3 linked regions of the Homo sapiens genome follow. The protein of the gene in region 1 purifies or fractionates together with the protein of each later gene. This does not show direct contact. Each region holds a gene or a part of one and is shown on either strand. Other genes may lie near its edges.

The links. Proteins that work in one complex are often made in the same cells at the same time.
Region 2: the proteins of ARPP19 (region 1) and CHID1 fractionate together in Homo sapiens (co-fractionation; one large-scale study listed by BioGRID). This does not show direct contact.
Region 3: the proteins of ARPP19 (region 1) and RC3H1 fractionate together in Homo sapiens (co-fractionation; one large-scale study listed by BioGRID). This does not show direct contact.

What each region holds. Positions count from the first base shown.
Region 1 is NC_000015.10:52,555,115-52,559,863, forward strand, and holds part of ARPP19 (cAMP-regulated phosphoprotein 19), read right to left. Parts: intron 2,109-4,749; coding exon 1,986-2,108; intron 1-1,985. UniProt on the Homo sapiens protein: Protein phosphatase inhibitor that specifically inhibits protein phosphatase 2A (PP2A) during mitosis. Inhibition of PP2A is enhanced when ARPP19 is phosphorylated.
Region 2 is NC_000011.10:907,359-912,632, forward strand, and holds the start of CHID1 (chitinase domain-containing protein 1 isoform a precursor), read right to left. Parts: upstream 3,453-5,274; 5' UTR 3,417-3,452; exon of another isoform or gene 3,283-3,416; intron 1,288-3,282; exon of another isoform or gene 1,184-1,287; intron 1-1,183.
Region 3 is NC_000001.11:173,945,206-173,949,954, reverse strand, and holds part of RC3H1 (roquin-1), read left to right. Parts: intron 1-2,372; coding exon 2,373-2,586; intron 2,587-3,118; coding exon 3,119-3,209; intron 3,210-3,346; coding exon 3,347-3,479; intron 3,480-4,749. UniProt on the Homo sapiens protein: Post-transcriptional repressor of mRNAs containing a conserved stem loop motif, called constitutive decay element (CDE), which is often located in the 3'-UTR, as in HMGXB3, ICOS, IER3, NFKBID, NFKBIZ, PPP1R10, TNF, TNFRSF4 and in many more mRNAs.

The sequences.
Region 1 (4,749 bases):
TCATTAAAGAGCTCACTTCTCAAATTCTATCTACTTATTTCTTGATTCAGTAGCATTTTCTTCATTCTCAACTATTTATATCTACAACACCAACTCCAAGATACAATGTATATGAAATCTGACTTGAAGATACTTAAAAATAAATAGTTCAAGCTAGAGAAAAATTACAGTGACAATTGGCCCAATGTTGGAAGAAAGCCTATTAGCCAAGGTTATGCTGGAGATTAGCAAAGAAAATATTTCCTAAACAATAATCAAATCAAAATAATTTAATAGCCAAAGATTAAATAATTTATCTCATAACTAAAAACACAGTTGTCATTCTACTTCTTCTATTTATCCCCTATATTATGATCTTTATGTTCTAAAATAACCACATAATACTATTTTATTGACTTACTTCAATTTATTTAATCATTTCTCTGCTGTTGAATAGTGGTGCTGCTACTAATTATAGTTATAAGCTATAAGGAGGACCTTCCAACTTGGAAGACTTTCCTTGTACTGAATTATACTCTTAGATTAATAAATAAGAGATTATTGATTTGAAGAACATTTTTATAAACCTTAATCCATACCCTGTTCTGAAACGAGTAATAATTTTTAATGTTTAAACACAACAAAGAGCATATTAGTTTCATTCAACTTCAACCTTAGCAATAGGTATTATTTTAAACATTTTTGCAATTTAGTTATATAAATACTATGATGTAATTTGCATTTCACTGATGTCTATAATATATAAACATTTCTCTGTTTTTTATATTTCCTGTTAAAATCCTTTATCCAGGAGCACCTTAAGTGTTTTTCTTGTACACTTAAAAGTTCCCTTTCATATATTTAAAAGTTTCTGTATGTATTTTAGACATTAACTAACATTTTTGTAATAACTTCCCTACTTGATTATATATTTCATGGTACGGGAGTTTTACATCTTCATAAATTTGGTGTCATTATTCCATCATCCTAGTATTTCAAAGCTGTGAATATTATTCTTTCATGTAAGATTAAAAATACCATTCTATTTTTTGCCACTTTAAAACAATCCATATGTACCTAGAGCTAATACACACACAGACGTGTTTTAAGCAAGGAGCCGATATCAGTATATGAATGTATTTAAGGAGAAACATGATTTAGCATCTCATTCAACAATTCTCTTCCGTAAGTAGTATTTCATCCTTCCCTGTATAGTAAGTAATTTGAATATGCTTAAGCTGAAGATGGAACTCTCTAATTTTTTACAGCAAAGGAAGGGGTCACAGGACAATACTTAGGGAACAAACAGGCCAGCATTATCTCAATCTCATTATTGAGAAATAATGGTATCTACCTCGCAAAACATGGCAAGAATTTGAAAATAATATCTTCAGTAATTTGAACTATGAAAATGAAAATGTTTAAATTGTATTAGAGTAAATCTGACTGTGAAACATATTACATAAAGGAGATAGCTGTGCATTTATTAAGTGATCATTTCATCCAAATAAGTATTTTAAGCTTTTGAATGTTGTGTGGGAATCACCTGCAAAAAATATGGAAGTTTCAAAATATGGGCAGAAGGATAAACACCAGCTTCTGGATAGTGGCTGCTTTTGGAGAGATAAGGGAAAGGGCTCATATTTACATATAGGGTGGGTTTCAACAGTATCTACAACATTTTCTTTCTTAAGAAAGATAAAACTGAAACCAACATGGCAAAATATAAACATTAAATCTGGGAAGGGGTATATGGGTTCTGTTATATCTGCACTATTTCTACATGCTTTAAATAGTTTATTATTAAAAATGCTGAAGAGTTGTAGATTCTCACAATGCTTATTTATAAACTGCAAAATATTGGAAAAACCCATTACAGATACATATACACATATGTACATACCTGATAAAGTACAATGCTATACGCACAGATATCCGTTTCACAATCTGTCAGCATACTGAGTTTGTAGGGCTTAAGTATTTGGAAATTACCCATGAGAACTTACCCCTTTCTGCAACCGTTTCCTTAAGAAATCTGAACCTCCAGGCTTTTGTCCCAGATGAGGATATCTTGCTTTTAATTTTGCTTCTTCTGCTTTCTCTGGACTAGTCACTTTATCTTCCATTTCCTAAAATAATTTCAAATAAATTACTTCTCTATTACAACTCAGTTATTTAAAATAATTCACCTTTAAAAATCTGGATTCTGAATTCTAGTTGTTAAATGCCAAGTACCACAGCATCTGACTAAGAAATCAAACCCAGAAGCCTTTAAAACATCTCTATCTTGTTTTTCAAAAGATCCATGTGATAGCTCTATTATAGCTGTGATGCATGTGTAACACCCCACACACTGGATAAAAATATCAAGATAGCTCAGCTCTGAAGTCTTGCTTGCCATTACTTTTCCAGTCATGTATAATACATTTATAGTTAGTCACCTTCTATGGAACTCTTCAGTTCTTTGCCTATATTTAGAGAATCATCCTAATACTGTTAAAATATACAGAATTTTTTCTATTTATCTAAAATTATGTATGATTTGAAGTTAGATTCTTTACTAGAAATTAACAGCAGCCTACTTATCAGTACATTTTTCTTGAATACAGATGATCCTGATATTTGTTTTTTTATAATAAATTTTTAATATTTTTATTATTTTAAATAATAGAGATGGGGTCTTGCTATATTGCCTAGGCTGGTCTTGAACTCCTGGGCTCAAACAATCCTGCCTCGACCTCCCAAAGTCATAGGATTACAGGCATGACCCACCATGCCTGGCCCATCCTGTTATTTTTAAAGAAGAGAAACATCATTTTTGTCAATCCTCACATCTATGTATATCATTGCCTAACTCTCCCCCATGTTTAAAATGACAAACTCTGTTCATGTCAAACATCCTATTCTTTAATATATCAAAAACCTGTTTCCTGACAGAACTATCAATTCTTCCATCTATTCACTTTGAACAACAGTCTTGATTTAGTCTGCTTTCTTTCAAAGTGCTATATTTAATAGGGAAGGAGTGTTTATTACTTCATGGCAAGTACTGCAGAAGAATTAATCAAGAAAAACAGACTGGGCACGGTGGCTCACTCCTGTAATCCCAACACTTTGGGAGCTGTGGGCGGATTGCTTGAAGCTAGTAGTTCGAGACCAGCCTGGGCAATATGGACAAAACCCAACCTTTGTAAAAAAGTTTAAAAATTAGCCGGGCATGATGGTACATGTCTGTGGTTCCAGCTACTCAAAAGGCTGAGGCAAAATGACTGCTTAAGCATGGAAGGTTGAGGCTGCAGTGAGTCATGATCACACCACTGCACTCTAGCCTGGGTGCATACCCAGGTCTAGCGAGAACTTGTCTCAAAACAAAACAGAAAAAAAAAAAAAAAGAAAGAAAAAGAGAAAGAGAAAAAGCTGTACTGAGATAGATAAACCGGGCAGCTGGCAAGGCACATTTTCTAAGTAATGGACTCATTTCTGCACATTAAATCAGCAAAATCACATACCTCTGCCTATCTTGAGCCTTCCAGGTTACTTAGGAATAGTCAAAGCAGGAATGTTAAATCCATAAATGTCAAACCTATGTTCTTATATAGCAAGCAAACCATTTATCTATCTAAGCACTGAAAGAAAAAAAAACTTCATAAAATTTTGGCATATATTTCACTCAAAATTATATTCATACATTAAAAAAAAAAAAAAAAGATGAAGATCCTGTTTCCCTTCCCTTTGTACCCACGGGGGGGAAAAAATTACAGGTCAGGCCATATTGCCCAAACTGGTCTTGAACTCCTGGCCTCAAAGCTATCCTCTCACCTCAGCCTCCCAATGTGCTGGGATTATAGGCATGCACCACCACATCCAGCTCTCATACATGTTTTATAATCAGCTTCATTCACTTTATATATTATCAGTATTTCATCCTGAACTGCTTCTTCATTTGTTGTTAGATCTTCTCATTTTCAGTCTCGGAGAATTTTGAGAAAAAAGCTGCTTCTGTCAAATACTGTTTTCTGTGGAGCCTCTTTTTATGTTGCAGATTCATCCATTTATGTTATCTCTTTACAGTGGCCACGTCATTCACTCACTTGACATGCACGACATTCAATTATGTGCACTTAGCCAGAAATAGAGAATTTAAATAGTGGTGAGTCTACCAGTCATTCCATTCAAGAAGGGTATGCTCCAGAGAGGTAAGTGTGAGGTATGTGATGCAAACCTGCCATTCCCACGTTAGTCTCTCGTTGGGTATCTTGCAGAGCATAAGTACATCAACATGCTGTTTATCATTGCAGTGTTTAAAATCTCAGCCCGTACAATACAAGCCTATTACCTTAGCTAGCACTCAACTTAAGAATCACCCTAGCCATCTAGCCATCTGTTCAAACGCTGGACATAAAAGTGACTACCTGCTCTACTGAGAATTGATGGGGCAGTCTCCAATATGATTATGCCTTCTCTAGAATTTTGTCAAGGGTGATTTTAGCTATATGTGATTTTTTTCCCTTACTAACATTAGAACCTAACCCCATGTAAGATATGACTATACCATATTCATCACCAAAGCCAGAGAAATAAACATAAATGTAAGATTACCAAGTTTAATGTAGGAAGGCGGGCTGAGTCACTGCACAGCTTCGATGTGGCTCAGCCCTCACTGCAGATATCTACTGCAGCCCAAGGGTGTTCTCAGTGCTGCAGTTTAGAAGTGGATGTGGGAGGAGAGGCCTACTCTTGGGTTTCCCTGCACAGCTGGCTTCAAATAAT
Region 2 (5,274 bases), on another chromosome or scaffold:
TAGTCCCAGCTATTCGAGAGGCTGAAGCAGGAGAATGGTGTGAATCCAGGAGGTGGAGTTCGCAGTGAGCCGAGATAGTGCCAGTGCACTCCAGCCTGGGCGACGGTGCGAGACTGTCTTTAAAAAAAAAAAAAAAGTGATTCTACTTTCTATCTTTCACTGGGGTTGGGGGCAGCGGCGGTGGGAGCTGAACCACCACCATAGCCCAGCCAGACTGTTAGTCCTTCATGAAGCTTTGGGACACTGCTGGGAAGAAGCTCTTGGCTAGTTTCACAGCTCTGGCAGCACAGACCCCTCTAGACCAGCTGAGAGGCCCACACAGCCTGGGCAGAGGCAGATACCTGACAGGTGGGGAGCTCAGCCCAACTCACTACCCAGCAGCTGGGCACATGGCCTTCCCCTTGGGTCACAGGCTCCTGAGTATATGGGAGCTCAGGCCCAAGAGGCTCCAGGAACCCCAGCCAGGCAGGTGCACCTGTCAGAAGATGCTGCCAGAGCCAGGCCTACCACAGTGCCTACCCTCCTACCCAAAAGACTCCCTGGCCAGGAACCTGTTTTCACTTCCTCTGAAACCGTCCCCTTGACCTGCTTTCTTCTGCAGAGGCACACGCTGCCCCACTTTGCCCTGTCTCTTCCCTGGGTGAGACTGGTGCTCCTGGTGCAGACTGAGGAGACTGTGGCTACCCCCAGGCAGGGAGTTTGCATGCTTTGGTACCCAATACACCCACAACACACCTGCATAGAAAGAACACGCTCCTGGAGCAAGATCAACCAGTGAAGCTCCCCCACCTAGGAGGCAGGGAGCCACAAGACAGCCTGACCTGCAGGCTTATGGGGAGTTAGGAAGGGAACTCACAGGGCAAGCACAGCAGCACCCAGTACATGGAGCCACAGGCAAAGGCAGTGAGTGCTTGAACAGCCACGGCAGTTCCGAGAGGCTGTGCAGGGGGAATAAGAAGGCCCAGGCACAGATCACCACCCTCTGCCCCGATCAACCTCTCCAGCCCCTCTCCTCAGTGATACATCCCAGAATCAGAACCAAGGGCAGCAGCCTGCTGCCACCTCCCCTTAGCCCCACTATCTTTCTGCTGCAGCTGAGGCTTGGTCTGAGTCAGCAACAGCCCCAGGGAAGGTGGGGAGGGTTCTGGCCATGGCACAGGGAAGACGGCCCAGAATCACTTGCCTGGCCAGGCTGAAACGGTGGCTGCCTCAGCTCCCAGGCACCCAGTCTTTGACCCCAGCCCATTCCATGACCACTGGCTCCTTCTCTGTCTTCTGGGTGGAAATCTGGGTCAGGGAGGAAGGAAAGGAATGAAAAACCAAACGGTGGTTCTCCAGGGGACTGGCCCAGGAGTAACTGGAGGGCACACTCAGGTACCCAGTGACCAACCACTATAGGGCTGGGTCTCTGCCCCTACCTGCCGTCCTGCAGATTTGAAACAGGGCCACTGTCCACCCACCTAGTGGCCCCTCTGCCTATGACCTCCCTGCCCCCCAACCTGTGATTTCACACTTCAGGGAAGGAAGAGGAAAGGGTGGAAGAGGAAGACAGTCCTGCCAGCATGTGTCCAGCAGAGGGGACACTAGGAGAACCTAACTGAACACAAGGCCAGGGTACTGCCTCTGTCCACTCGCGCTTAACTTGCCCGCTCTGTGATGGAGTGCTTGGATACAGGCTGCTCACAAATGCTGGGCTGCTTCTTTGACTTGCCATGGAACTTTCCAGACAACTGCCCCAGGGAGATGGTGTGTGTGATGTGTGAGGGGTGCTCACACTGCAACCAGGCCCTTGTCTGGGCTTTGGTACCTCTCCCGCTCCCCACTGCTCACCGGCCGCTCGGCTCTGAGGCCCGTGAGGACACTCTCCATCATGCTCTTCACATAACACAGACTCCCAGGTTCACACACACTGTGTTCCTGCATCAAACCGTTTCTTCCCCAAATGCCAATGACCTTCCCTTGGGCAGAACGGCCCCGCACACAAAGGGAATGTGTTGTGTTATGAAGAGGCACAGGCCCCGACCCTGGTCACCCAAAGGGGTCCCAGAAACCGCTCTGTAACAAGATAAGGTGGAGCGCTACTGCTCCCACTTTCCTGCGCTCCCAGTCCGTAGGTCCAGGACCTCCTCGGTGGTGTTGATGGAAATGATGGGAGTCACAGCAGGGGCTTTCCAATGCTTTTCATGGAGACCAGCAGTAAGAAATGCACTTTACGTCACAGCCCAGCACACGTGTATGTCATGTGTGCACATGTGTTGTGCATGTGTGTACATGTGTAGAGCGACAGCAGCCAATCAGAGCTAACTCTATTCTGCGATGGACGCACTGACAACTCCTGTTCTGTTGTGTTTTGAAGAACTAACTGGTGCATGGCGGCTCTGGCCTGTGATCCTAGCACTTTGGGAGGCCAGGAGTTTTTGACTGGTTTTGGCAACACAGCCAGACCTGGTCTCTACAAAAAATATTTTTCTGCCGGGCAGATCACCCCATCAGGAGTTCAAGACCAGCCTGGCCAACGTGATGAAACCCAGTCTCTAAAAAAGATACAAAAATTAGCTGGGTGCAGTGGTGTGCGCCTGTACTCCCAGCAACTCGGGAGACTGAGGCAGGAAAATCCCTTAAGCCCAGAAGCGGAGGTTGCAGTGAACCGAGATCGCGCCACTGCACTCCAGCCTGGGTGACAGCGTGAGACTCTGTCTCAAAAAAAAAAAAAAATTCTTAGCTGAGTGCGCTGGCGCACACCTGTAGTCCCAAGTAGCTAGGAGGCTAAGAGATTACTAGAGCCCAGGAAGTCGAGGCGGACGGGCGGGCGGGTCACCCTCCAGTTTGGACAGTCAGCAATGGAAGCTTCAAGGGTTGGGGCTGAACCAAGGGTGGGTGGGATCGCGTCTGATGCGCCCACCCTTCACGGGGACCGCGTGCCCCTCACTGGGAGGGCAGCCCGCCTGGAGCCCTACTGCCTCTGCTCCCTCTGGGGGTCCTGGGGACCCGATGGCCACCACTCTGCCACACGAGCCGCGCGCTCACACACTCCTCACCCGCCGGCCACATCCCTTGTCTGCGCACTCAGGCCCCTTCCACCCAGCGCGCCTAGCTCTCAGGCTTGCTCGCCCCAGCGCACGCGCTCCACCTCCCACTCGCGGTCCCCCCGACACGCGCCCCCGTCCACACTCGCCCTCCACCCCCGCTCTCGCTCACCCTCGCTCTCATAGCAACCCTCTCTCACCCTCGTCCTCACACCCTCTCACACGCCCCCTCACACACTTGCTCTCTCTCACGCACCCGCCCGGCGTCGCCCGCGACCCCACGCCCGTCCTCCCGGGGCCGAGCCTCGCTGCCCGGCGCGCCCACTTTGCGGGAGGGAAACTGAGGCCGTGCAAGGAGGAGGAGCAGGGGCCGGCCGCCGCGGGGCTCACCTGCATGTCAGGGAGGCCGGACGGCCACAAACGCACGGCCGGAAAACGCTCCAGCGCGCCGGAAGTCCCGCCCCAGGCGCCCGCGCGCCGCCGCCGCGCACGGCACGCTGGGATGGAGAGGGGCTGGGCCAGGACAGGGGACTGGGCAGGGCTGCCCGAAAGTCGGGGCCGGGGCCGGGGCCGGGGCCGGGGCGGGGCCGCGCCGGGGGCGGACCCCGGGCCCGGCGCGTTCACCTTGAGCGCCCCTGGTGCTCGCGCTGGAGCTGGTTATCAGGTTCCCGGCCCAGGGGTAGCCGGGTTCCCAGCGCCACGGCTCTTAGGCAGGCCTGGCGCCCTTGGCGTGGGGCCGCGCGGGGCCTTGGGCTCCAGGGCCTCTGCCCGGCTCGGCGGTGCCGGGAGAACCGCGCGGTGGGCTCCGCCCCGGCACGCTCCCCCGGGGACCCGGAGTCACCACTCCTGGCGTCCCCCCGACCCCCGCCTGAGTGGACCATCTCCATCCCCAGGCCGATGGCGCCCACTGCGCTGTCTCCAGCGGGGACTGCCCGAAACGCGCGCTCTCTCGGTCCGCACCCCCGCCTTGCACATTGCACGAGCCGGAGCCCCAGGAGGCAAACCAAGTTCCCAACTCAGCCCCTCGCGCTTGGATGAACGAGCGCGTGGCCAGCACTTTTGAGTCACCGCGCATTCTACGCGGCACAGGCTGTCCGACCCCCACCCCCAGCCCTAGCCGTTCCCAGCGCAGTTTCCTACAGAAAACCGCACGGCCGGGCCCCACCCTGCCCCGCTCAGCCGTTCCCGGGGCGCGCGTGGGCTCCAAGACACCCTGCACAGCTGCTTCTCCATTTCTGCTGCTTGGGAGCTTTCTCCTTAAACTAAGCTTTGTCTTTCTTTCTAGTCACGTTTCCTTCTTTCCCTTCCCGGTATTTTCTGCCAGCTGACGCCCACGCCTTTCCTAGAAGGGGCTGGGGGCTGCATGCGGTGCGAGGCACGTCCCCCACCAGCTGTGGGCTCTTACTCAGCTTAGCACTCGCTCTCAGCAAACGGCCTGGATGGTGGCCTGAAGCCTGACCTTTGGGGGTGAAGACCTCAAGTCGGCAGAGCTCTGGAGAGGGTCCCAGTAAGCTATGGCAGGTGTCCTCAGGGACATATGCGCAGTCCTCCCAATGCTAAGGAGGCCATGGCAACATCCAACTTCTCTTAGGAAAGGCACTTAGCCATTTTAGGATCTCATTGAGGTCAGAGGTCTTTGGCGCTAAAGAATTGCAGAATCGATCGGGCAGCCGCCGCCTTTAATCCTAGCACTTTGGGAGGCCAAGGCGGGTAGATCACTTGAGGTCAGGCGTTCGACACCAGCCTGGCCAACATGGTGGAACCCTGTCTCTACTAAAAATACAGAAATTAGGCGTGGTGGCGCATGCCTGTAATCCCAGCTCCTGGGGAGGCTGGGGCAGGAGAATTACTTGAACCTGGGAGGCTGAAGTTGCAGTGAGCAGAGATCACACTGCACTCCAGCCTGGGTGATAAAGTAAGACTCGGTCTCAAAAAAACAAAAAAAAGAATTGCAGAATCTACTTAGGGTTCACTCTGGGCCAGAACTACAGACCTCAAGAGCAGATGGGGCCCGCAGATGGGAGGATAGGAAGCCCAGAGCCAGGCCCCTCTGCAGAGCTCCCAACGGCCGGGTTCCTGGGGGAGTCTTGTCAGTTGCCAGCACAAAGCGGTCCGCTTCCCAATCTGCATAGTTTGTGCCAATGGGCCCCGTGTACCTGCATTGAAAACTGACTTCTTGGCTGGGCGCGGTGGCTCACGCTTGTAATCCCAGCACTTTGGGAGGCTGAGGCGGGCGGATCACAAGGTC
Region 3 (4,749 bases), on another chromosome or scaffold:
CTTCAGGTGCTCTGCCCTCCTCGGCCTCCCAAAGTGCTGGGATTACAGGTGTGAGCCACCACGCCCAGTCTGTATTTATATCTGTAGCTCAGGATTATTGATTTTAGCTGCTTTTACGAGATATTCTGTGTAACTGATACCATACAATGATTATTTTTTGTATTGGTGGACATTTAGGCTATTTCTGATCTTTCACTGTTAGGTATGGTACTCCAACAAACATTCTTCAAACATTCTTATGTATGTCTTCACGTGTGTGAAAGTTACACTTAGAAATGGTATTGCTGGCTGGGTACTGTGGCTCATACCTATAATCCCAGCACTTTCAGAGGCCAAGGCAGGCGGATCACTTGAGGTCAGGAGTTTGAGACCAGCCTGGGCAACATGGCGAAACCTCATCTCTACTAAATACACAAAAATTAGCTGGGCATGGTAGCAGGAGCCTGTAATCCCAGGTACTTGGGAGGTTGAGGCAGGAGAATTGCTTGAACCTGGGAGGCAGAGGTTGCAGTGAACCGAGATTGCGCCACTGCACTCCAGCCTAGACAACAGAGTGAGACTCCATCTCAGAAAAAAAAAAAAAGAAATGGTATTGCTGAAAGGTATGCCTTCACTATTATTCTTAACCCATTTGTCCTTATTAACTCTAACAGAGGTTTCCTAGGTTATTATATAGATTTTCATAGATAAATACTTTTCCAGGTGGTTAAGAAAAGACCAATATTTGCAATAAAAAAAGATTTGGATGCTGATAACCACTGTAAATGAGTGAAGTGATATCTAATAGCATAAATACAATTATATGCCAGCCCCACCCCCCCCCCCAAAAAAATAGAGAGTTTTAGAGGAAGAAAAAGCAAAATAAAATTTTTTTTTTTGCAGTAGAATTACAGAAGCATTGTTTTTAGGCTGTAGTAAGGCTCTTATTGGAACGAAATGAGGGGAAATTAGGCAGGAATCTTTGCCTTGTACTTGGCTTTCAAAAGGAAAGGGTTATTATATTAAAGTAACACGAGTATTAGCAAAATAAAACTCATTTTCTTAAATCAGTAAAGAATTAAAAAGTTTGGGCCAGGCATGGTGACTCAAACCTGTAACCCCAGCACTTTGGGAGGCCAAGGTGGGAGGATTGTTTGAGCCCAGGAGTTCAAGACCAGCCTGGGCAACATAGCAAGACCCCATCTCTTCAAAAATTTTTTTAATTAGCCAGGTGTGGTGGTGCACGCCGGTCCCAGCTACTTGAGAAGCTGAGGCAGGAGGATCGCTTGAGCCCAGGAGGTTGAGGCTCACACATCACTGCAGTCCAACCTGGTGACAGCAGAACCCTGTCTCAAAAACAAACAAACAAAAAGTTGCAATCCAATCTAGAGGTAATTGAAAACCTCCCAAATAGGTGAAAGAAGTCTAACCTAGTATTTCTCAAATGTTAATGTGCATACAAACTATATATTTGTGTGTCTATATATATGTGTAACATTATATAGGGATAAATATATATTTGTATGCATATATATATACTAGGTCATTATATATATATATATATTTCTTCAAGATTGAATTGGCTTTTATTAGTGATTGATTAATCAGGAAGCATTTCATCTGTGAAATAGAAAGATGCTCTAATGAGCTAAACAGAGAAAAGGAACAAAACTCAGATTAGTTGTTTCAAAGTTATTTTCCTTATAGGACTAAAGCAGAAGGGACTTACCAGTTCAAATTGAGTGGTCCTCTTATGATTGATTGCTGTGAATCTCCTGTTTTTTGGAAAACTGGCCCATTTTCAAGTTCAGTTTGATTTTGTGGCATCTAGCATAAGTGATTACATTCTGCTTTGATCTGGTGTCTTGGGGCTTAGTGCGGGAGCTTAGTCCAAAACAGTGGCCTCCCATAAATTTTAAAAATATATTTCTTAGGCCAGGTGCAGTGGCTTATACCTGTAATCCCAGCACTTTGGGAGGCTGAGCTTGAGGCAAGCTAAGCCCAGGAGTTTGAGACCAGCCTGGTCAACATAGGGAGACCTCATCTCTATAAATAATCAAAAAAAATTAGCTGGGTGTGCTGGTACATGCCTGTAGTCCCAGCTACCTAGGAGGCTGAGGTGGGAGGATCACTGGAGCCCAGGAGGTTGAGGATGCAGTGAGCCATGAGAGTGCCCCTACGTTCCAGCCTGGGCCACGGTGTGAGACCCTGTCGCCCCTCACCTCAGAGGTTTAAAAACCAGTGTTACATAAAAACAACCAAAGGTAACTAATGATTTTAGTCTTACCAGTAAGAGTGCTGTACTCTTCTTTAACCTTATTACAGATCTAGAAAAAATTAGGTTACAGAGCGATCTGAGTGTGGGGTAATTTCTCATTTTGCTTTTTTATCAGAATGTGGAGAGTAAAGGAATGAGGGACCAGCGATTAGATCTTCAGAGAAGAGCAGCAGAAACCAGTGATGATGACCTCATCCCATTTGGAGACCGACCAACAGTGTCTCGGTTTGGTGCCATCTCACGAACTTCCAAAACTATATATCAGGGTGCTGGTCCAATGCAGGCTATGGCACCTCAGGGAGCTCCTACAAAATCTATTAACATTTCAGGTAAGAATCTCAGAGGTAAGCTGACCTAAAGGGTTCATAATCTTGACTTTCAGCATTACCCCTGCTCTCCATTTACTATCAGTGTTTTTAGTAATCTTGCAAGGCAGTAATTTTCAAACTTTCCATGGAATCATCCCTGTAAGAAAGGTAATATAACCCAGAGAATTTTAGGTATATAAACTGAAATTAAATGTCTATATGTGAAGCTTTCCTAATGTTTCTTCCCCACTCCACCCCCACCCCAAATAGCTTAATTGTTATTTGGGGGAATAACATTCTCATTATACAGTAATTTGGAAGAAAAACTACAAAGACTGAAAGTTCATTGGGGAAGAAACAAACATATATCAGCACCCAGCATCATGCTGCCTGATATTTAGAAAAACAAAGTTAAAGAATTTTAAAAATCTGGACATTTAGGGTAGATACCAGATACCTGTGTATGCAATACGCTGATGTCTTTCAGATTATGAATACCTTAAAAGAAGAATCAAATCTGTGAATTATACCATAATAAATCATTCTCTTACAGATTATAGTCCATATGGAACCCACGGTGGCTGGGGAGCTTCTCCATATTCACCTCATCAAAACATACCTTCTCAGGGACACTTCAGTGAGAGGTATGAGTCATTCTTTTTACTTGAACAAACATGTAGAAACCTTTAAAATTAGGCAACTTCTTTTTGTTTTTCTGGTCAGTAATATGTTAACAAAATGAAATGTTAAAATTTGATTCACACTTTCTTTCTAACCAAAGGGAGAGAATATCTATGTCAGAAGTGGCCAGTCATGGAAAACCCCTTCCATCTGCTGAGAGAGAACAGCTACGACTAGAATTGCAGCAATTGAACCATCAGATTAGCCAGCAGACCCAGCTACGTGGACTAGAGGTACCAGCCTAGAGAGCCATTTTATTCCAATTTTTGAAGGGTTCTCAGAGATTTTAAATAGGAACTTTTGAGGCACTGTGAACAAAAAACTTTAAGGTCTATTTCTTAGGAGTTAGTATAGGTTTCTATTCTTCAAAGAATTCAATACTGGATTTAGCTCTGGGACAACAGAAAACGTAAAATTTCTGCTACCTAAAAATAGAAAACAGATTACGTAAAATTTCCCAACAGGAGCTTATATTCCCTGATGGCACATTTAAGGTTTTTTTTGTTTGTTTGTTTGTTTGTTTGTTTTGGTTTTCTTTTTTTGAGACAGTATTGCTCTGTTGCCCAGGCTGGAGTGAGGTGGCGTGATCTCAACTCACTGCAACCTCCACCTCCTGGGTTCATGCAATTCTCCTGCCTCAGCCTCCTGAGTGGTTGGGGTTATAGATGTACACCACCATACTCAGCGAATTTTTTGTATTTTTAGTAGAGATAGGGTTTCACCCCTGTAATCCCAGCACTTTGGGAGGCCGAGGCAAGTGGATCACAAGATCAGGAGTTTGAGAACAGTCTGGCCAACATAGTGAAACCCCGTGTCTACTAAAAATACAAAAAATTAGCCGGGCATGGTGGTGTGCACCTGTAATCCCAGCTAATCAGGAGGCTGAGGCAGGAGAATCGTGTGAACCCAGGAAGCAGAGGTTGCAGTGAGCCAAGATTGCGCCATTGCACTCCAGCCCAGGCTACAGTGTGAGACTCCGTCTCAAAAAAAAAAACAGAACTTTGACTTAAAAAGTAAAACATAGTTCCGGTGTAATAAGAATAATAACACTTTTCATTTACGTAGTTCTGTACCATTTAAAAATCACTACCACTTATCTTATTTGACCCTTAGAATATCCCTGATATTTTAGGCAGGTGGTATTGTCCTCCTTTTTTGATTGAAGTATATGAGTTTCTCAGAAGTTGAAACACGAACCCAAGTCTTCATACTCCAGATTCAGTGTTCTTTCCATCATGCTGCCTGACACTTAGAAAAACAAAACTAAAGAATTTTTAAAATCTGGCTGGACGTGGTGGTTCATGCTTGTAATCCCAGCACTTTGGGAGGCCAGAGCAGATGGATTGCTTGAGCTCAGGAGTTTGAGACCAGCCTGGGCAACATGGCAAAATCCCTTCACTACAAAAAGTGCAAAAATTGGCCAGGCATGGTAGTGCACGCCTGTAGTCTCAGCTACTCAGGAGGCTGAAGGCAGGAGGATCACCTGAGCCCAGGGAGGTTGAG